Regions from separate parts of the Homo sapiens genome. Here region 2 is linked to region 1. The links come from fine-mapping of genetic effects on gene expression. Tissue or cell type: lung. Region 1 holds a variant in brackets; the other region holds the start of a gene. All regions are shown on one strand. Distances are between the middles of the regions.

Region 1 (10,935 bases):
TGGTAACTTCATATTTTTATTGAAATGAAAGTTTCTGAGTAATTAAGCATATATCCTTCATATGCTAGAAATATATGCAACTTTCAAGAGCACATGCTGATTCACAAGCAGAATAATGGTTTCCTATTAATATTGTTCCCCATGAAAGAAATTTAAGCAGCTTTTAAAGTACTTGAAACTGTAAAGATAATGGCCTCATTTTCAAAAAATTTGTTAGATTATTAATATCATTCATTTTACGTTACCCTGTTTTGCTAATAAACTGTCATTACTCACACGTGAATACTTTTGAACATATTTCAGGTAATTTAACCTAACTTCATGTTAGTATGATGCATTTTTATGTCTGTGCTTCAACCTTTGTGTTACTAATACCTTATATTGGACAAACAGAAGACAAGTTACTGAAGCTTATTAATAGCTCTCATAAGTTCTATGAGGTACATCTTTTTACATTAAAATGAATAAAAGAGATAACTTGCCATTTCAAACGCTCTTTTGCTTCTTCTACAAGAAGATTTGAGATATCCTATAGAACAGTGGTCCCCAACCTTTTTGGCACCAGTGACTGGTTCCTTGGAAGACAGTTTTCCCATAGACCAGTGGGGGCACAGTTTTGGCATGAAACTGTTCTACTTCAGATCATCAGACGTTAGTTAGATTCTCATAAGGAGCACACCACATAGATCCCTTACATGCACAGTTCACAATAGAGTTTGCGATCCTGTGAGAAACTAATGTCGCTGCAGGAGGTGGAGCTCAGGTGGTAATGCTTGTTCAACTCCTGCTGTGGGCCTAACAGGTCACAGACTGGTACTAGTCTGAGGCATGGGGGTTAGGGACCACTGTTACAGAATAAACACACTGAGGAGTATGCAAAAAAGTGCTAGACACAGTCCCTGACTTTGTGTTGTTAACATTTAAGGAACAGACAAGAACACATTGGCTTATCCAAAAAAAACTACATAGTGGCCGGGCGCAGTGGATCACGCCTGTAATCCCAGCACTTTAGGAGGCCGAGGTGGGCAGATCACGAGGTGAGGAGATTGAGACCATCCTGGCCAACATGGTGAAACCCCATCTCTACTAAAAATACAAAAATTAGCTGGGTGTGGCAGCGCGTGCCTGTAATCCCAGCTACTTGGGAGGCTGAGGAGGAGAATCGCTTGAACCTGGGAGGCGGAGGTTGTAGTGAGCCGAGATCGTGCCACTGCACTCCAGCCTGGCGACAAAGCAAGACTCCATCTCAAAAAAAAAAACCAAACAAAAAACCTACATGGTAAGGTTCTAAGACTCAGAGCGAGTAATACTGTATGTATGTAAATTATATATGTATAATTTATGTATACAATAATGTAACATATAACATTTGAATGGACTGTGTATGTGTGCATTTATATTTTATATGATTTATATATTATAATTTATAAAATATAAGCATTGAAATTGTATGTATGTTTATATATATCATAGCATATATAAATTATACATGAACATTTTTTATGTAATTATATGTGTAAAGTTTCACTCACACTGAGCCTTAAGACCCTACCTTGTAGTTTTATTTGGATGATCCAATGCATTCTTGTCTGTTCCTCAAATGTTAACACAAAGTCAGGGACTGTGTCTAGCACTTTTTTGCGTACCCCTCAGTGTGCTGATTCACACACACACACACACACACACACACACACACACACACACAGAGTCAGTTCTCATTATTTGTGCTATTTATGTTCTATAAAGTTGCCATCAACTCTGCATTAGTGAATACTAAACTACTACTTCTAAACCTTTGGTCACATTTTTTGTCAAGTGTTCAATACATAACCTTGTTTTATGTATATGTCTGTTTAAAGACACCTTTTAAAATGTATATTTATATTACATAATTAAATATGTACAGTATTTCATTATAATAAAACGCTAGCTAAGAAAGTTTTCACACTTCTTGATTCTGGCCAACATGGCTGTAAACAGTAATGTAAACTTTTTTGGCTTTCAGCCTCGTAACAGTACTGCCTACTGTGCTTTTTTTGTTGTTTTAAAATCAGTTATCACCTCATGAATTCACAAATTTAGCTACCTTCCCATCTTTTCTATAGCCTCATTATGCACAATAAATGTTAGTTTAGCACTTTCTAGAGCAGGCCCATATACAGATTGGTGATTATCTGGATGAACATTGAACTCACAGACAGCAGCCCTATAACTCATGATTGAAGAAAGCTCATCTAACACATATATTTCTCTGTAAGGTATATCACAGCCTTCTTGCACTTAGTAACAGTAGCAGAAACTCAACGTTACATGTAAGAGCTATTAAACAGGGAAATTACGAACAAAAAGCATAAAAATACAAAAAAAAGTGTCACTGTTAAGACCATGAAAAAGACACTTGTTTACAGTATGAGAGCTGAAACGAGAAGGCAGAGCATGGCCTGGGTCAACTCCATCTGGGAATTTGCTGTGCAGACAACTGATTTTTTTTTTTATTTGCTTTACGTAAATCTACAAATAACTGTGAAAATACTACCATTGTGGTCGTTTTCTACCTGTTCCCTCACTTTCTTCGACAATCAAAAACCACTGAATAGCTACTTTTTTTGTGATATTAGCTATCCTTGTAAATGACATTGACATCTAATCTGATGCTTGAGCTAGAATCTCAAAGTCAAATTTGACTTGTTCTTTGCAAAGATCTCCAAAATACAACAAATCACCAGATTTCTTCCTTTTCTCTACTTCAACCATAGCAATATAAAATAGATGAGAAATTGAAGATTCTATAATACTCATTGTATTTATAAAAGTCAAAACCTAGTGATTTATTAAATTAATATTTTTTAAGCTAGAAGACAGTTTATGGAACATAAATTAGATCTAAATTGATTGACTTTCCTATTTGTTGCTAGAAATAGAAGTAAAATGAAAATTTGATAGCTTGGGACTACAATAGGTAGATAACCCAAATATTACATTTAATAACACCACTATCAATATTATTTTTTGATAATGATATCCGGGATATAGGAAAATGAAGATTTTCCTTAACACAAAATATATCTTATTATATATGACTTTAGTGTGAACTTCACTGTTTTACATCGTATTATGTAATATGTCTTGTATTTACATTTGAAACATGGACATTAAATGATACAGCATGATGTTGATAACCTCACTCATTGTATTTAGTGAAATATGGAAAATTATTATGTAATATGGCATTAGTGATAATTATTTACTTGCCATCCTCTTTAGTGGACATGTTATTTTATACCACTGGACATCCATTGTCTCATTTTTGGTAACAATTCCTGATTCCTCTCTGGAAAACCACTTTTTTTCCCCCCTTATTCTCAGTCCGTGGACCTTTGTACCCTTCTCCACCCCATTCTCATTCAAACTCCCAATAAGAATGTGTGAACCTGAAATAATCAAAATGATCAGAATCCAGTTCTAAAGAATTTACTCAAGTGTGAAATTTAAGGATGGCTGCCCAGGAAACACAGACTCCAAATGAATGGGGTCAGTGTTCTGAAGTGGAGAACTAGGATTTTACCTTTATAGGTAGAAACAAAGAAATTTAGTAGGATTACAACATTTTCATATAAAGCTGGTTTATGAATTACAATTTGATTAGTTACAGCTTGTTCGTTTTTGGGAAAGGTATACTTAACAGTTCATCTTGAGCAACTTGATAATCATAGAGTCTTTGTGCTATCTGATCTGTGTCAGGTGCAAGAGAAAAAAGGAGGAAGTTAACCTATAATGAGGGTCAACAAGTAAGAGGGAAGAGAGCTTATCTCTGGTGTCATTTAATCTTTTGCAACATTTTACAAAACAAAGTAGGTAAGGAAAAAGTTAATCTATAATTAGAGAAACAATCACATTTTCTTTAAGACTCAAAATAATTGAAAGTTCCAACAGCTTTAATTTGAATCGCTTATTTTCACAAACGTTACCAGGCTAAGTCAGTTAAGGAACTTTATATCCTCTGACCTCAGTTTTTAATTTAAAGGTAGATGCATGGCTCTATCAGATGCTTTGAGACCCAATAGAAGTTTTTCTTGAAATTCTGGTCTAGACTCTCTTTCTTTCTGGACTCAACAAGAATAAATACAATTTCTGGAGCAGTTGCAGACATCTTGCCACCATGAAGGAAAATCTGCTTCTGAATGAACCAAGGGAATTGTAACTGGAGATGGAGAAAAATAAAGTAGCGGTGAATAGATGGGCTCCTGCTTCAATCCATGTCTGTAGGTGTCACCAGTCTACACTTTTCATTTTTGAGAGGCTTTAAATTCCTTCTTAATTTAAGCTAGTGTGTCCGGAATTGGTTCCTTCCAGTGGGTTCTTGGTCTTGCTGACTTCAAGAATGAAGCCACAGACCCTCATGGTGAGTGTTACCGTTCTTAAAGATGGTGTGTCCTGAGTTTGTTCCTTCAGATGTTCAGATGTGTCTGGAGTTTCTTCCTTCCGGTGGGTTCGTGGTCTTGCTAACTTCAGGAGTGAAGCCACAGACCTTTGCAGTGTGTGTTATAGCTCTTAAAGGTGGTGCGTCCAGAGTTGTTTGTTCCTCCTGGTGGTTTCGTGGTCTTGCTGACTTCAGGAGTGAAGCTGCAGGCCTTCGCAGTGTTACAGCTCAAAAAGGTAGTGTGGACCCAAAGAGTGAGCAGCGGCAAGGTTTATTGTGAAGAGCAAAAGAACAAAACTTTCACAGCATGGAAGGGGACCCAAGTGGGTTGCCACACTGGCTTGGGTGGCCAGCTTTTATTCCTTTATTTGTCCCTGCCCACATCCTGCTGATTGGTGCATTTTACAGAGCACTGATTGGTCCATTTTACAGAGTGCTGATTGGTCCATTTTACAGAGTGCTGATTGGTGCATTTACAATCCTTTACCTAGACACAACATGCTGATTAGTGCGTTTTTTACAGAGTGCTGATTGGTGCATTTACAATCCTTTAGCTAGACACATAGTGCTGATTGCTGCGTTTTTACAGAGTGCTGACTGGTGCATTCACAATCCTTTAGCTAGACACAGAGCACTGATTGGTGCGTTTACAGTCCTCTAGCTAGACAGAAAAGTTCTCTAAGTCCCCACTCGACCCAGGAAGTCCCGCTGGCTTCACCTCTCACTAGTATGAGTAGCTTATTTTTCTCAATTGCAAACTAAGGAGTATGAAGTCATATTAAACCCAATGAATAAAACAGTTCAGGCATCTGAAAATTATTTTAAGAGTTGAAGCATAAAAATGTAAGGTTTAATGACTTATTTTCCACAGATTTTACTATTTGTATTAGAACATCATTTTGGTAAATGTACATCTGTTCTTCATCAAAAACTGCTGGTACCTCTAGTAGTAATACTTTTCACATATGTATTATCTTCCATCACTTCTATCTAGTTTGTATTTGGCCTATAGCTCATTTATGGACACCTAAACTAAATTCATCTCAATTAATCTTTAATTTTTGTTAACATAAAGAAGTTTACAAGCAATCTAGGATACAAAAAGACAAAATTTGTAAATATGCATGCAGAAAATGAAAGCAGGTTTGGAATGGAGTTTCCCAGTATACTGACTCTTTCTGCATAAGCACATTGTTTAAATATAAGTTACAGTGATTATTATATTCTGTGGTGTATTGTTAG[A/G]CAAAACTACAAGTACTACTGGAATTTAATTAATTAATTACTTATGAATCTATTTATGAATTCCTGACATTCATCTTTATTTTATAATTTAATGTGCTTTTTAAAAACTTTTATTTTAGGTTCAGGGGTACATGTTCACTTTGTTATATAGGTAAACTTGTGTCATAGGGGTTTGTTGTACAGATTATTTTGTCACCCAGGTACTAAGGCTAGTACCCAATAGTTGTTTTTTCTGATCCTCTCCCTCCTCCCAACCTTCACCTTCAAGTAGGCCCTAGTGTCTATTGTTTCCCTCTTTGTGTCCATGTGTTCTCATCATTTAGCTCCCACTTGTGAGAACATATGGTTTTTGGTATTCTGTTTCTATGTTGGTTTGCTAAGGATGATGCCGTCCAGCTCCATTCATGTTCCTCCAAAGGACATCATCTCATTCTTTTTTATGGCTGAGTAGTATTCCATGGTGTATATATACCACATTTTCTTTTTTCAGTCTACCATTGATGGACATTTATGTTGATTCCATGCCTTTGCTATTGTGAATATTGCTGCAAAGAATATGTGGGTGCATGTATCTCCATGGTAGAATGATTTATATTCTTTTAGGGTATACACCCAGTAATGGGATTGTTGGGTCAAATGGTGGTACTGTTTTTAGCTCTTTGAGGAATCAACAAACTGCTTTCCACAATGGTTAAACTAACTTACACTCCCACCATCAATGTATAAGCGTTCTCTTTTCTCCACAACCTCACCAGCATCTGTTATTTTTTGACTTCTTAAAAATAATAGCCATTCTTACTGGTGTGAGATGGTATATCATTGTGGTTTTGATTTGCTTTTCTCTAATGATCAGTGATGTTGAGCTATTTTTTATATGATTGTTGGTTGCATGTATATCTTCTTTTGAAAAGTTGATGTTTATGTCATTTGCCCACTTTTTAATGGGGCTACTTGTTTTCTTTTTTCTAGTAAATTTATTACATTCCCTATAGATATTAGACTTTTTCAGATGTATAGTTAGCAAATATTTTCTCCCATTCTGTAGAATGTCTGTTTACTCTGTTGATAGTTTATTTTGCTGAGCAGAAGCTCTTAAGTTTAATTAGATCCAATTTGTCAATTTTTGCTTTTGTTGTGATTGCTTTTGGTGTCTTTGTCATGAAATCTTTGCCCATTCCTATGTCCTAAATGGTATTACCTAGGTTGTCTTTCAGGGCTTTTATAGTTTTGGGTTTTACATTTAACTCTTTGATCCATCTTGAGTTGATTTTTGCATATGGTGTAAGAAATGTGTCCAGTTTCAATCTTCTGCATATGGCTAGCCAGTTATTCCAGTGCCATTTATTGAATAGGGAGTCCTTTCCCCATTGCATGCTTTTGTCAGCTTTGTCAAAGATCAGATGGTTGTAGGTGTTCACCATTATTTCTGGGTTCTCTACCATGTTTCATTGGTCTGTGTGTCTGTTTTCATGCCAGTACCATGCTTTGGGTTGAGACTGTGGAGTTTTTTAGATAGAGAATCATGTCATCTACAAACAGGGATAGTTTGACTTCCTGTCTTCCTATTTAGATGCCCTTTATTTCTTTCTTGGGCCTGATTGCTCTGGCCAGGACTTTCAATATTATGTTAAATAGGAGTGGTGAGAGAGGACATCTTTCTCTTGTGCCAATTTTCAAGTATAATGCTTCTAGCTTTTGCCTATTCAGTATGATATTGGCTGTGAGCTTGTCATATATAGCTCTTATTATTTTGTGATATGGTTTTTCAATACCTGGTTTCTGAGAGTTTTTAAAATCAAGGGATGTTGAATTTTATCAAAAGCCTTTTCTGCATCTATTGAGATGATCATGTGGTTTTTATCTTTAGTTCTGTTTATGTGATGTATGACATTTATTGATTTACATACGTTAAACCAACCTTGAATCCCAGGGATAAAGCCTGCTTGATTGTGGTGGATTAGCTTATTGATATGCTGCTGGATTTGGTTTGCCAGTATTTTGTTGACAATTTTTGCATACATGTTCATTGAGGATATTGGCCTGAAGTTTTCTTTTTGCTGTTGTTGTTGTGCCTCTGCCAGGTTTTAGTATCGTTTCTATGATCCTGGCCTCATAGAATGAGCTAAGGAAGAATCACTTCTCTTCAATTTTTTGGAATAGTTTCAATAGGAATGGTACTAGATCTTCCTTGTACATCTGGTAGAATTCAGCTGTGAATCTTTCTGGTCTTGGGCTTTTTTTGTGTATTGGTATGCTATTTATTACTGATTTAATTTCAGAGCTCATTTTTGGTCTGTTCAGGGAATCAATTTCTTCCTGGTTCAGTCTTGGGAGGGTGTATGTGTTCAGGAATTTATCCATCTCATCTAGGTTTTCTAGTTTGTGTGCATAGAGGTGTTCGTAGTAGTCTCTGATGGTTATTTGTATTTCTGTGGGGACAGTGGTAATATCTCCTTTGTTGTTTCTGATTGTGCTTATTTGGATCTTATTTCTTTTCTATATTAGTCTAGGTATTAGCCTATCTAACTTATTATTTTTTTAAAAAAATTAACCCCCAGATTCAGTGATTTTTTTATTTGTTTTTCTTGTCTCAATCTCTTTCAGTTCAGCTCTGATTTTGATTACTTCTTGTCTTCTGCTAGCTTTGGGTTTGGTTTGCTTTTGCTGCTCTAGTTTTTCTAGTTGTGATGTTAAGGTGTTAATTTGAGATCTTTCTAACTTTTGATATCAGCGTTTAATGCTATAAATTTCCCTCTTAACACTGCCTTAGCTGTGTCTCAGAGATTCTGATATGTTGTATCTTTGTTCTCACGAGTTTCAAAAAACTTCCTGATTTCTGCCTTAATTTCATTGTTTACTCCAAAGTCATTGAGGAGCAGGTTATTTAATTTCCATGTAATTGCATGGCTTTGAGTGATTTTTTTCTTTATTCTTGATTTTAATTTTTATTGTGCTGTGTTCTGAGAGTGTGTTTGGTATGATTTTGGTTCTTTTGGATTTGCTGAGGATTTTTTTATGTTGGATTGTATGGTCAATTTTAACCTATGTGCCTTGTGGCAATGAGAAGAATGTATACTCTGTTGTTTTTGGGTAGAGAGTTCTGTAGAGGTCTATCATACCCATATGGTCCAATGTTGAGTTCAGGTCCTGAATGTCCTTGTTAATTTTCTTCCTCACTGATCTCTCTAAGACTGTCATTGGAGTGTTGATGTCTCCCGCTATTATTTTGTGGAAGTCTAAGTTTCTTTGTAGGTTTCTTTGTAAGTTTAAGAACTTGCTTTATAAACCTGGTTGCTCCTGTGTTGGTTGCATATGTATTTAGGATAGTTAGGTCTTCTTCTTGAATTGAACCCTTTACCATTATGTAATGTGCTTTTTTTTCCATCATTTTTGTTGTTTGTTAGTTTAAAATCTGTTTTATCTGAAATTAGCATTGCAACCTCTGCTTTTTTCTGATTTCTATTTGCTTGATATATTTTTCCTCCATCCCTGTATTTTGATCCTATCAGTGTCATTGCATATGAGATGGGTCTCCTGATGACAGCATACCATTGGATCTTGCTTTTTTTTTTTTTTTTTTAAATCCAGCTTGCCACTTTGTACTTTTTAAATGGTGAGATTTAGCCTGTTTCCATTCAGGATTAGTATTGATACATGTGGATTTGATCCTCTCATGTGTTTTTAACCAGTTATTATGCTGGCTTTTTTGTGTGGTTGTTTTGTAGTTTCACTGGTCTACGTACTTAGCTTTGTTTTTATTAGCTGGTAATGGTTTTGGCTTTCCAAATTTAGTGCTTCTTTCGATGTCTATTCTAAGGTGGGCTTGATGGTAACAAACTCCCTTAGCATTTGATCTGGAAAGGATCATATTTCTTCTTTTCTGAGAAAGCTTAGTTTCTCTGGATATAAAAATCTTGATTGAAGATTTTTTATTTCTTTAAGAATGTTGAATGCAAGCTGCCAATGCCTGCTGGTTAGTAGGGTTTCTGCAGAGAGGTCCACTGTTAGCCTCATGGGGTTTCCTATGTATGTGACCTGCCCTTTCTCTCTAGCTGCCTTTAATATTCTTTCATTTTGACCTTGGAAAATCTGATGATTATGTGTCTTAGGGATAATCTGCTTGTGTTTAATCTTGCAGGGGTTCTCTGTATTTCCTGAATTTGACTGTTAGCCTCTGTAGCAAGGTAGGAAACTTTTCATGGACAGTATCCTGAAATATGTTTTCCAAGTTGTTTGCTTTCTCCTGTCCCTTTCAGGGATGCCAGTGACTCATCTATTTAGCCTCTTTACATAATCCCATATTTCTTGGAGGTTTTATTTCTTTGTATTCTTTTTTTCTTTATTTTTGTCTGAGTGTCTTATTTCAGAGAGACACTCTTCAAGTTCTAAGATTCTTTCCTCAGCTTGTTCTACTCTGCTGTTAATACTTGCGATTGCATTGTGAATTTCTTGTAGTGTGTTTTTCGGCCTTTTCAGATCAGTTAGGTTCTCTCTTACACTGGCTATTTCATCTGTCACCTCCTTGTCATTTTATTGATTCTTAGTTTCCTTGGATTGCACTTTGCTGTTCTCCTGCATCTTGGTGATCTTCATTCTTATCCATATTCTGAATTCTATTTCTGTCATTTCAACCAATTAAGGCTGGTTAAGAACCCTTGTCAGAGACTAGTGCAGCTGTTTGGAGGAGATAAGACACTCTGCCCACTTGAGTTGCTCAAGTTCTTGCATTGGTTCTTTCTCATCTCTGTGTGTGGATATTGCTTTAACTGCTGGGCTCCCTCTGATTAAAGTGGTAAAGTGGGGGCAGCATGGTATTACTGGAGTCATATGTCAGGTGACCCTGCCCAGTAGGGAGAAGAGAGTACTGGGACCTGCATGGAATACCGTCTGACCACTTTTCTGTGAGGTGGGTGCTCTGTTCTGGGGGTCTGGACCAGCCTCTGGTTGCCGTGGACTCCCCAGAGTGTGGAGACAGCAAGCATGAAGGCTGTAAGCAAATACGGCAATCCCCACTCCCATTGGGAGCTCTCTCCCAGGAGTTGTAGAGCTGCTACTGGCTCCATAGTCCCAGCTGGGGGGTGGTTGGAGACTCAGGCTGGGAGGACCCACCCAATGAGGAAGTATGAGATCAGGGACCCACATAACAAACAGTCTGGCTACTTTTCCATAAGGGTGCTGTAGTATGCTGGGGGTCTGCTCTAGTCTCTAGTCACCTTGGATTTTTCAGTACCTGAAGGTATCAACAGTGAAGACTGCAAAACAGCAAAGATGGC
Region 2 (10,935 bases), 85 kb before region 1:
TATATTTTAAAAAATGCCAGAATAGCTGTATTAGTCTGTTTTCATGCTGTTGATAAAGACATACCTGAGACTGGGAAGAAAAAGAGGTTTAACTGGGCTTACATTCCACATGGCTGGGGAGACCTCAGAATCATGGAGGGAGGTGAAAGACACTTACATGGCACTTACATGGCACTTACATGACAGTGGCAAGAGAAAATGAGGAGGATGCAAAAGGGGAAACCCCTGATAAAACCATCAGATCTCATGAGACTTATTTGCTACCATGAGAACAGTATGGGGGAAACTGCCCCCAGGATTTAAATTATCTCTTACTAAGTCCCTCTCACAACACATGGGAATTATAGGAGTACAATTCAAGATGAGATTTGGGTGGGGACACGGAGCCAAACCATATCATTCCACCCCTGGCCCCTCCAAATCTTATGTCCTCACATTTCAAAACCAATCATGCTTTCCCAACAGTCCCCCGAAGTCTTAACTCATTTCAGCATTAACCCAAAAGCCCACAGTCCAAGGTCTCATCTGAGACAAAGCAAGTCCCTTCCACCTATGAGCCTGTAAAATCAAAAGCAAGCTAGTTACTTCCTAGATACAATGGGGTACATGTATTGGGTAAATACACCCGTTTCTAAATGGGAGAAAGCTGCCAAGGTTTGGGGTTTGCACCCTCTGAAACAATCAGCTGAGCTGTACGTTGGCCCCTTTTGGCAATGGCTGGAGCAGCTGGGATGCAGGGCACCAAGTCCCTAGGCTGCATACAGAATGGGGACCCTAGGCCTGGCCTATGAAACCATTTTTCCCTCCCAGGTTTCCAGGTCTGTGATGGGCAGGGCTGCCATGGAGACCTATGACATGTCCTGGAGACATTTTTCCCTTTGTCTTGGGGATTAACATTTGACTCCTTGTTACTTATGCAAATTCCTGCAGCCAGCTTGAACTTTTCCTCAAAAAACGGGTTTTTCTTTTCTACTGCATTGTCAGGCTGCAAATTTTCTGAACTTTTATACTCTGTTTCCTTTTTAAAATTGAATGCCTTTAACAGCACCCAAGTCACCTTTCAAATGCTTTGCTACTTAGAAATTTCTTCTGCCAGATACCCTAAAATCATCTCTCTCAAATTCATAGTTCCACAAATCTCTAGGGCGGGGCAAAATGCCGCCAGTCTTTTTGCTAAAACATAACAAGAGTCACCTTTACTCCAGTTCCCAACAAGTTCCTCATCTCCATCTGAGACCACCTCAGCTTGGACTTGATTGTTCATGTCATTATCAGCAATTCTGTCAAAGCCATTTAACAAGTCTCTAGGAGATTCCAAACTTTTCCACATTTTCCTCTCTTTTTCTGAGCTCTCCAAAGTGTTCCAATCTCTGACTGATACCCAGTTCCAAAGTCGCTTCCATATTTTTGGGTATCTTTTCAGCAATGCCCACTCTACTGGTACCAATTTACTGTATTTGTCTATTTTCACGCTGCTGATAAAGACATGCCCGAGACTGGGAAGAAAAAGAGGTTTAACTGGACTTACAGTTGTTCCACATGGCTGAGGAGGCCTCAGAATCATGATGAGAGGCTAAAGGTCCTTCTTACATGGCGGTGGCAAGAGAAAATGAGGAGCATGCAAAAGCGGCAACCCTTGATAAAACTATCAGATCCCACGAGACTTATTCACTATCATGAGAACAGTACGGCGTATATTACTGCCTTGATTCAAATTGTCTCCCACCGGGTCCCTCCTGCAACCCATGGGAATTATAGGAGTACAATTCAAGATGAGATTTGGGTGGGAACACAGAGCCAAACCATATCAATAGCATTTCCTATAATACATTATTCTTCTAATTTTCTTAAGTTTATAGTAAAAAAAATTCACTTGGACAATTTCAAGACACACCAGAGAATCAAAATATCATCAATGTGGTAGTTTCCAATTGGTTGCCCTGAGCACATTACTTTGTATAGTTTGTATCCATAATGGCACACAGTATTAGCTGAGTAGGTTTTTTCTTATTTATTTATTTTTAATGTACTATTTGTTCTCTCCTAAACTTTTATCTGAGTATTTGGAAGCCAAATGACTAAGATTTTCACAAAAGGTAAAATAGAGGCACATAGCTTTCTTTTAAGTAAAATGTTACTTTACCCTCTAACCTCCAGCATCCCAGGACTAACAATCGATTGCTATTTTTTTTCTTTTTTCAGTGTCTTGATTTTTAGTCTGTTAATGATATGTAAATATTTCAGATTTTCTGTCATCCAAATAATACAGTTAGACTGTAACTATAAATATTAACTTGGAACATTACAAATAAAATTAATAGAATCATTTTAATAGGAGATGATAAGGTCTAAAATATAAACCAGATCTCTCTCTCTATCTCTATCTGTATAAACTAATAATGTAGCAATATTACTTTCTTATTTAGCAAAGTAATTACAAAAGTTCGTGCTAAATTATGATTTCATAAACAAACACATACCACAGGAGTGCAAGCATGGATGGAAAAAAACATGCTTAATTTCCTAGATTTAATAGCTTTTAATGCAACTCCACACCTATTTGTTGAAATGTGGCTATTTTGAAGGTCCCGTGCTAGAGGCAGCTAAGCCACAGGGAGAGGGGAAGAGTTGAAAGAAAAACGCACAGATAATCGTATAGCGGGTCAGGTTATAGTAAGCATTCCAGGCAAAATACTCACATGGGTTATGAAGGGTTCAAACAAAGGGGTTCAAAGGAAGAAGACATCATAAGAAGCTGGAAAAACCAAGAAATCTAATGGAGGATATGTAATTTGAGATGGGTCTGGAAGGATGAGTAGGATTTTGAAGACAGAGACAAACAGTATGACTTTTATTTCAACTGCTATTCTTCAGGTTTCAGTAGTCATTGTATTTCATTTGATGTTACAAGTTTTGGTAATTTCTTCCTTCATTTCTAGCTTCTTAAATAAACCCTCTGCTACATGACCTCTACTGAGCATTAATCATGCCAAATTAATCACTATTTTCTGGATAAGCCAAATATTCTAAAAAATCCCTATGCCTCTACTCATACTATTCTCTCTGCTTGCTTCACCTTTGCTCTTTTCCCTAAAGTAGGCTGCGAACGAATATAGAAGGCTTGGTTCATTTTCAATGTCTTCCTTGACCCCCACCTCGAAGAAGTATGTGTACCTCACAGGTATTTCCAAATCCCTCTGTATGTTCTTTGATTATTGTCTCTCACATCGTATCCATTTATCAAGGAACAAGCTTGTTCCTCCACACAGAGCGGTTCTTAAGTAAGGGCAGGAGAAGCCATATGGTTATCCTCCGGCCCAGGCTGTCAGGTGGTTGGTATTCGGTCTGTATATACTCTGATGCAATCAGTTTTTGAAGGAAAGAACGGTAAGCGCAAATAGAACCATAGCTTGTGTAGCAGGGTTCATGTAAGCAGTGGTTCTTACTGAAAAACAGACCCTGTTCTCTCGGGCTCACTTCTTCCTCCGTGTGAACCACTAATAGGAGGGGACCGAAGGCTGAGGCCAGGCCACCTGGAAGCCCACAACGCTGCTAGTAGCAGCGACAGCAGTAACAGCAACTCACCACTGTAAAATCCTCAGTGCGTTTCCATGTGCTTTCCCTGTCATCTAAATGCTTCTCTTCAGCGGCCTAAGGTGGCCCTTCTTTTTCCCCGAGTTCAGGGAAACACCTCCCTTCTTTCAGAATGTGAGAAAAAAATGGGATTTTCCTGGGGCTGAGAGTGGGGATTCCCTTTCCAGAAACGTGCAATTTTTTCATCCCGCCCACCTGGACTGAAGGCAATCAAAGCGAGGGAGCTCGTGGCATAGTGGAACACTCCAAGCACCCTGGCCCCCCTCCTCCCAGAGAAGGGTCTGGAGCCCCGCAATCCGCTAATTAGCTCGCCCCCATTGGTTGTCCCCAAGGCACCCCCGTGCCGTCACTGTGCTATGCTAATGAGGGGGAGTCTCATTGGCTGGGCCTCCAGCTCCATCTCCACAGGGAGATTGCGGGGAGAGCCGGGTTGGCCGCGTCTGGGGCCGAAACCCACCGCCCCCGATTCCCGCCAGCTCAGGGCTGTGCCGGATGCAAGCCCGCCCGAGGGAACAGTAGCCGGGAGGCTGCCCTCTGGGAGGATCTGGCAACTGCCTTTAAGGAAAGTGCTTCACCATCAAGCGGCGCTCACTCCCACCCCTCTCCCCTCTTTCTAGGCACCGCGCGTCTTTTTCGGCGAAGTAACTTTTTATACCCGCCTCCCCCTAGTCCTGGGGACCAGAGGCGGTGCCGAGCCTGGGGGCGGTTCCTTGGCAGCGTTGATTCTTGTCAGAGCCAGACTTTTGCTCCTGGGTTGGGTTTGCATCATCCCCATTACACCCTCGGGAAAGAGGAGCCAGCCCCCTTTCAAGCCTTAGCTTCCGGCTCCAAGCGGACCCCCTCCCCCTCCCTGTCCCCTTCCCCTTCTCCCATCCCTCTCTCGGCCACAGCGTCTTGTTAGTCCTCTCCCTGTACTCCGCAATATTTTCTTTCTTTCTCCCTCCTCTCCTCCATTTGTTGTTTGATGTTTCCCACTCTTTGAGGAAGGATGGTTGATTTGGAGAGCGAAGTGCCCCCTCTGCCTCCCAGGTACAGGTTTCGAGATTTGCTGCTAGGGGACCAAGGATGGCAAAACGACGACAGGTGAGTGGTGTGGTGGAGGATTGTTCTGTAAATATTGCTGAAAAAGAGACGGAAATGGGAGGGCCGAAGTGGGGAAAGGAGGGAGAAAAGGAAAACGGAGCCAGAGAGGGAGACTAGGCTGGGGGAGGGAGTAAAAGAGACTCTGATTTGTCTCTCCATTTTGACTCTATATAACTGTTGCTATAGATAAGGAACTCTTTTTCTTTACACTTTTCTTATTCTTGCAAGGTATTTATTGCATTCATTTGGTGCTTATTCTTTTGTCTATCTGTGCTTTTCTAGGATGTGTATAAGGCTGGTATCAGAGGTACAATACACCCAAATGGTATGCAATATCATTTCCAGAAAATTTGCATTTTTTCCTTAGGTGTGGTTAATCAAACTCAAAATTGCATGCAAGTTGTTTGAAAAAGCACATTAGAAACTTAAAATCTCCTGAGTCTATTTACCTCCTCCTTGTCTGTGTTGTCTTGAGTAGGTATCTACTTGGCACTGGAAATTTTATGCTGTTTAAACATTTTGGAGTTTTAAGTAGACAATTGGTTTAAATATGTAACAGGTAGTTAGTGAAAATGACAACCTTTTTAATACAATATACTCACTTTGAACAGGTGACTCTGACCATTATGAATAATGATGTTTGTATAACATGATACAACCTTTTCATAACTAGTATATTTTTTTAACTGAAACAGAATATATGTCTCAAAATTAAAATTAAGTTTCAAAACTAGAATATTTATTGTTAGCAAAATATTGTTCATGTGTTTTATTTATAGCATTACTGCTTTGCACAAACTTCTGAAATTCCTCTGTCTATTTCTGTCTCAAGCACATTTTGTATTTCAGCGAATTTAGTATTTTCTGGAATAGTCATCCCATATATCACATGCCACATTTCTTTGTTTTAAAATAATACATGTATACTAACTAGGTTCTCAACTCAATTGAAATGTTTCATTGAAGTTTAGTTTAGTATTGATGTGCTATTTTAGTTATATAAAAGATCCATTATTGGTCCAATCCAAAATCCCCTCCTCATTCACCACTGACCAATACACTCTATTTCTTTTCTTCACCTTTTCAGCTCCCAATACCAACTCCTGTCTCTACACACTGAGGATTTTATCTTGAGCATCAATTATGGGCATCTTGTTTGGTCTCATATTAGTAATTTGAAAGGAGATGGATGTTTTGTAGAGGATATTTTGGTTCAATCTCTTTTTTAGGCAAAACCACACATATTGGCTAAAAATTTAAAGAAGTAATACCAATTTCTCAGTATTCTTGTAAAGTGTTTGGGTAAACTGAAGATAAAGAAAATAATTTTTAAGTGAATTTGTAATACAAATTGACATTTAGATAAACTGCATTAGCCTGGTTAAATGGCTTAGTAAGTGTAGCATGGTGTTCCTAGTGACTGAATGTATATTTAGTTCAGGACCTCAGGATCATTATATAGAATAGAAATCCTCTTTGTAGAAAGTGTGAGATAGATTAAACACATAAAGCACATACTTTGGTTATAGTGATGGTATTGTTGTTTGTTTGTTTTAAATATCATATCCAATATGTTAATTTTCATGTGGTTGCCCTCATTTTTCTAAGGATGCTGCAGAAATATTTTAGTAATTAAGAATTTTGGTTAGTTGAACACTGCCTAAATGGATCAGTGCCATATTAAAAAAGTTTTGCAGAATGGTTAAAATTTTATGTTCTATTAAAAGGTTATGCTAGCCCAACTTTAACTTAAAAAGCAGGCCACATTTACTACTAAAATAAGTTATTAAATATTTAAAACAATCATTCAACCATTTTTAAGGATTTGGCTACTTTTGTGGCTTCATGGAAAACTATTCTTTGGTTTTGGTTCCATTTGTTGTTAATCTTTGAAGGCAAGATACTTGGAATCAGAGAAACCCAGATTCAGTCCTTGGCTGTTTCCTTCACTAGCTGAGTGGCCTTGGGAAAGTCATTCAGCCATTATGAGATTCAGCAATATTATTTTTTATAATGGGAATTATACTGTCTACCTTATAAAACTGTGACAAGAGGAAGGATGGAGAGGCGCAGAACTAACATTTAGTTGGAAATAAGTACTCCCAAGTTCTTTTAACTGTGCGGTATGTTCTTTCTTAGTTAATCCTCAGACAAACTCTGAATAGCAGGCAATTATGTTAGGCACAAGGAAACTGAAATTTTGGTAAATTAAATACGTGTCTTGGATATTATATCTTATCAGTGTAAAGATAACTCTTCAGTTCAGTTTATTATTATTCAAATCCCTCAAGAAATTCTTAAGTTCTTTTCACTTAATTTATTTGAACTTATAAGAATAATTTACAGCACCTAGCATAGTTTAGGTGCTCATTAAATATTAGTTCCCTTCTTCACTTCTGATTTGCCCTTTGCAATCCTTTTTTTCTCCCTTTTCAGACTCCTAAGCTAATATGTGGTAGGTAAAGTCATCTTCCTTGTCTATAATATGGTGACAAATTCCTCTTTGCAATTACGCCTGGATAGCAATCTCATTCTACTCAGTTATCTTCTTGGACTCAATTCTTATAGAGTTGAGGAGGAAGCCCTCTTTCATGTAGGAGTAGGTAGATCATTTCCAACAACAGATACATTTAGTGCTCTGCCCATATTCTCAAAGCAACTTTCTTTGAACACCTCCTGCATGAGGTTTTCTCCCCACCACCAACCTCAGGTGCATCCAAGTCCTGCTTGGAGAACAAGCTGGAGTGTCACTGAGTAAATAGGCTGTTTCTGAATCAATACTTTTGCTTCCTTGCTCCTTAGCTTGGAGAATTCTGAAGCATGTTCTACACTGTGTCCAAAGGGACTGAGCTCCACTTGCCCGCAGTGATAACTGGCTTAATACTGAAAGCTTTATTGGCTTCTGTCTCTCTTCTCCCCTACTGGTATTTTATCTGTGATCAATTCCCAAATGAACTGCTTTTGCTGCAATCCTATCTCAAGCTTACCTTCTGGGAGAATCTGCATCAAGATAGCTGTTTTCTGGATGTAGAGAGCCACATCCTTGTAATGATGGGGGAATTGTGTTCCAAATGTAGGAGTATAAACACTTTCTACCTTGTTCCTCACTGTAAGAATTTCAAACTCCATCTTAGGTCATAGTTGACTGGCACATGAAAATGAATGAAGCATATGATAGATGCTCAAATGGGTGTTGTTAAAGACATAATATTGATGGGCCTATTAGGTGTAGGAAATGTGTATTCCATACCATAGATTTTCTGTGAATCAACTTTGGATAAGTAGGTCATCTAAATTTATATTGTGCCACCTTTTGTGTAGGTAAAAACACATACACATACACTGGCATAATGTACATGTAATGTATATAGTGTATATGTAACAGATATGCATTGCTTTTGTAATATATGTATTATAAAATATTGTATATTGTATGCTAAAATTGTATATTATGTAATGCATCATATATTACAAATATGTGATTAATAATATATATTATAATATATGTAATGAATAGATATGTCTTTGTATTATCTTTACGCCATCCTTAGATAATTGCTTCTCTCTCATTTGCACTCTGATATCCTTTTCTGAGTAGGACATATGGGAATAGGGTTAGACACAGCAGTGCAGAGAATTTAGCACATGGATAACACTACTTCTGTGAGGCCATGAAATAAATTTGAGTTGCTAAATGAGAATATTGCTTATGTGTAGGGATGTCTTTTGTATATATGATGCACACTTACTTGTTTGACATCCTGAGCAAAAAACAAAAATCTAATTCAAGTGGTTTGTATGATATGTCTTTAATGGCCATTCATTCATTCAGCTAATATTTGAATGTTTGCTATGTCTCAGGGCCCCATTAAGTTAGGTTTTGGGACAAATACGGAAAAGAATATGAAATAGCGCTCAGTCTGGAGGGGGTCACAGATATGATAAGAGGTTAATTCACCTCAGAATATTGACAGTATTGTTTATGTTATGATGATGTCCTTATAGAATTTCCATTTTAATACTGTCAAGAAGATTCTGCACCATTTGTAGAAAGGATATTCAGCATTTGCTTGAAAATAAAGTAGTTGAAATCACATATTAGAGATAGCTCAAGGCATTCAACATTCAATATTCAACTTCTGGCACCAAGCCATCTTCCTGCCTTGGACTCCCAAAGTGCTGGGATTATAGGTGGGAGCCACTGCTCCAAGCCTGTTTTCTGTTTTAATATTTCTATGATTCACAAAGCAGTAAAGATTTAGAGTATTCTCCTGCAGTTAAACACTGATAAGTTACAGGTTTTAAAAGTCATCAGCCAGTTATACAAGTCTTCTCCTGTTTCATCATGATTTAGTAATTTTAAACTTTGGAACACAACACACTTAATGTGAATAAATTGTCACAATTCCAACTACTGTTAATGGAAAATCCTCAGTTGTAGCCATAGAAGAGAAGGTCATTTATTTAAGACCATTCTAGTTTTCAAAAATCAGGTCACTTGTTTCAAATCCAATAATCATGCATACCTTTTGTATTTTATAGGTGGCCTTTAGAAGTAATTCAAGGAAGTCAACTAATGCATTGTAGTTGTTAAAACATTAAAGGATTTGAACATAGTACAAGTCAATCCATTAACAGTTTAAGAGGTATTTACAAAAATAGAAAAATATTTCCACAGCATTTGGAATATGTGTAATTTTAGATATACACTGCAAAATATATTGCTTTACATAATCAAATTCAATTGTGAGAATGGGTTTTGTATTGACATATTAAACATTTTATAAATTACTAACTTTATCTCCATTATAAATTATATATTGTTTTGAAAAACAGCCATTTATTATAAAATATTTATTCTAAATTTTAAGTTCAGGTTAGTAAAGACAATTTTAAATTTTTGAGCGCCATTAAAATGAATGACACATTATTTTTACTCTTTAATCGATAGTGGCATCAACTATGCATATACAATATCTACAAAAATGATTTAAGCATTTACTTTAGAAAGAGAGTTTAGACAATCCTGTGTTTCTTATCAATATCGACTTTATTAAGAAAAATATCCACAAATAAGGCAATAGAAAATTAGAAACTTAAACAGATAATGGTATAAAAAATAGACTTTGGGCCGGGCGCGGTGGCTCACGCCTGTAATCCCAGCACTTTGGGAGGCCGAGGCGGGTGGATCATGAGGTCAGGAGATCGAGACCATCCTGGCTAACAAGGTGAAACCCCGTCTCTACTAAAAATACAAAAAATTAGCCGGGCGCGGTGGCGGGCGCCTGTAGTCCCAGCTACTCGGGAGGCTGAGGCAGGAGAATGGCGTGAACCTGGGAGGCGGAGCTTGCAGTGAGCCGAGATTGCGCCACTGCAGTCCGCAGTCCGGCCTGGGCGACAGAGCGAGACTCCGTCTCAAAAAAAAAAAAAAAAAAAAAAAAAAATAGACTTTGAATATATATAGTGTAATACATAAAATGCAGAGAAAAATGTATTATTTAATAATTATTGTTTTTCAATCACTACTAAGAATTCAGACATCAATATTTTATATAAAACACACAAGGTTCTTTTCTTTTAACCAATTCTTATAAATAAAATTGAAATGTGACTTTTCAAATTACTGATACTTTATTTTTAAAGTTTGATTTAATTTAACAGCTATCATATAGCCACTTTCTGCATTTGGTTATGTATTAGTAGTACTTCTGTGAGTGACTTAATCATTTCCCTGGGGCTCCACTGAATACTGTCACATTCGGTATTATGTTCCAATATATGAATTTCATGGGGACACCAACATTGAGATCACAGCAATTGATCCTTTTGTCATTGATGGTTCATCTGTTTTTATTAATTTATGTATTGCCTATGTCATATTATTTATTATGCACCATGCTTGTCTAAGTTGTCTTTAGAAAATAAAGCAAAAAGCAATATTTTTTACAGTAAAACGGTAACCAGTTGCTTTATATACTTACAATTTGAAATTAAGTTCACTTGGCCTTTTTCTGAGCAATATTTAATGTTTAGCGGTATCCTTCATTGAGATGTCTTTTTCTGAGTTTTAAATTTGGAATTAAAATTTTCTCTGCAAAAGCAATCAAAACAATAAATAATTATCCAGAAAGACAATTATTTTTAATCTTTCACAATCCTTGATTGGATATGGGATTTTTTTTAATGGGTCATAGAAAAAAATCCTTTTCACAGAATCTTAATCATTAGCAATTGAATTGTAATTTAAGTAACAGACGT

What was found.
Region 2: it holds the start of KCNT2, and the variant in region 1 is fine-mapped to the expression of KCNT2 in lung (TOPMed, PIP 0.97).

The regions. Positions count from the first base shown.
Region 1 is chr1:196,516,786-196,527,720 of GRCh38, reverse strand. The region is part of intron 1 of KCNT2 (potassium sodium-activated channel subfamily T member 2); the gene reads left to right. Among named protein-coding and RNA genes, the nearest start is that of MIR4735, 60 kb to the left of the region's middle. The variant A/G (reference allele first, on the strand shown) is at 5,663.
Region 2 is chr1:196,601,957-196,612,891 of GRCh38, reverse strand. KCNT2 (potassium sodium-activated channel subfamily T member 2) reads left to right here and starts at 4,452. Exons shown (of 28, transcript NM_198503.5): 1 at 4,452-4,677. The coding sequence starts at 4,583. RefSeq lists an enhancer at 3,601-4,117.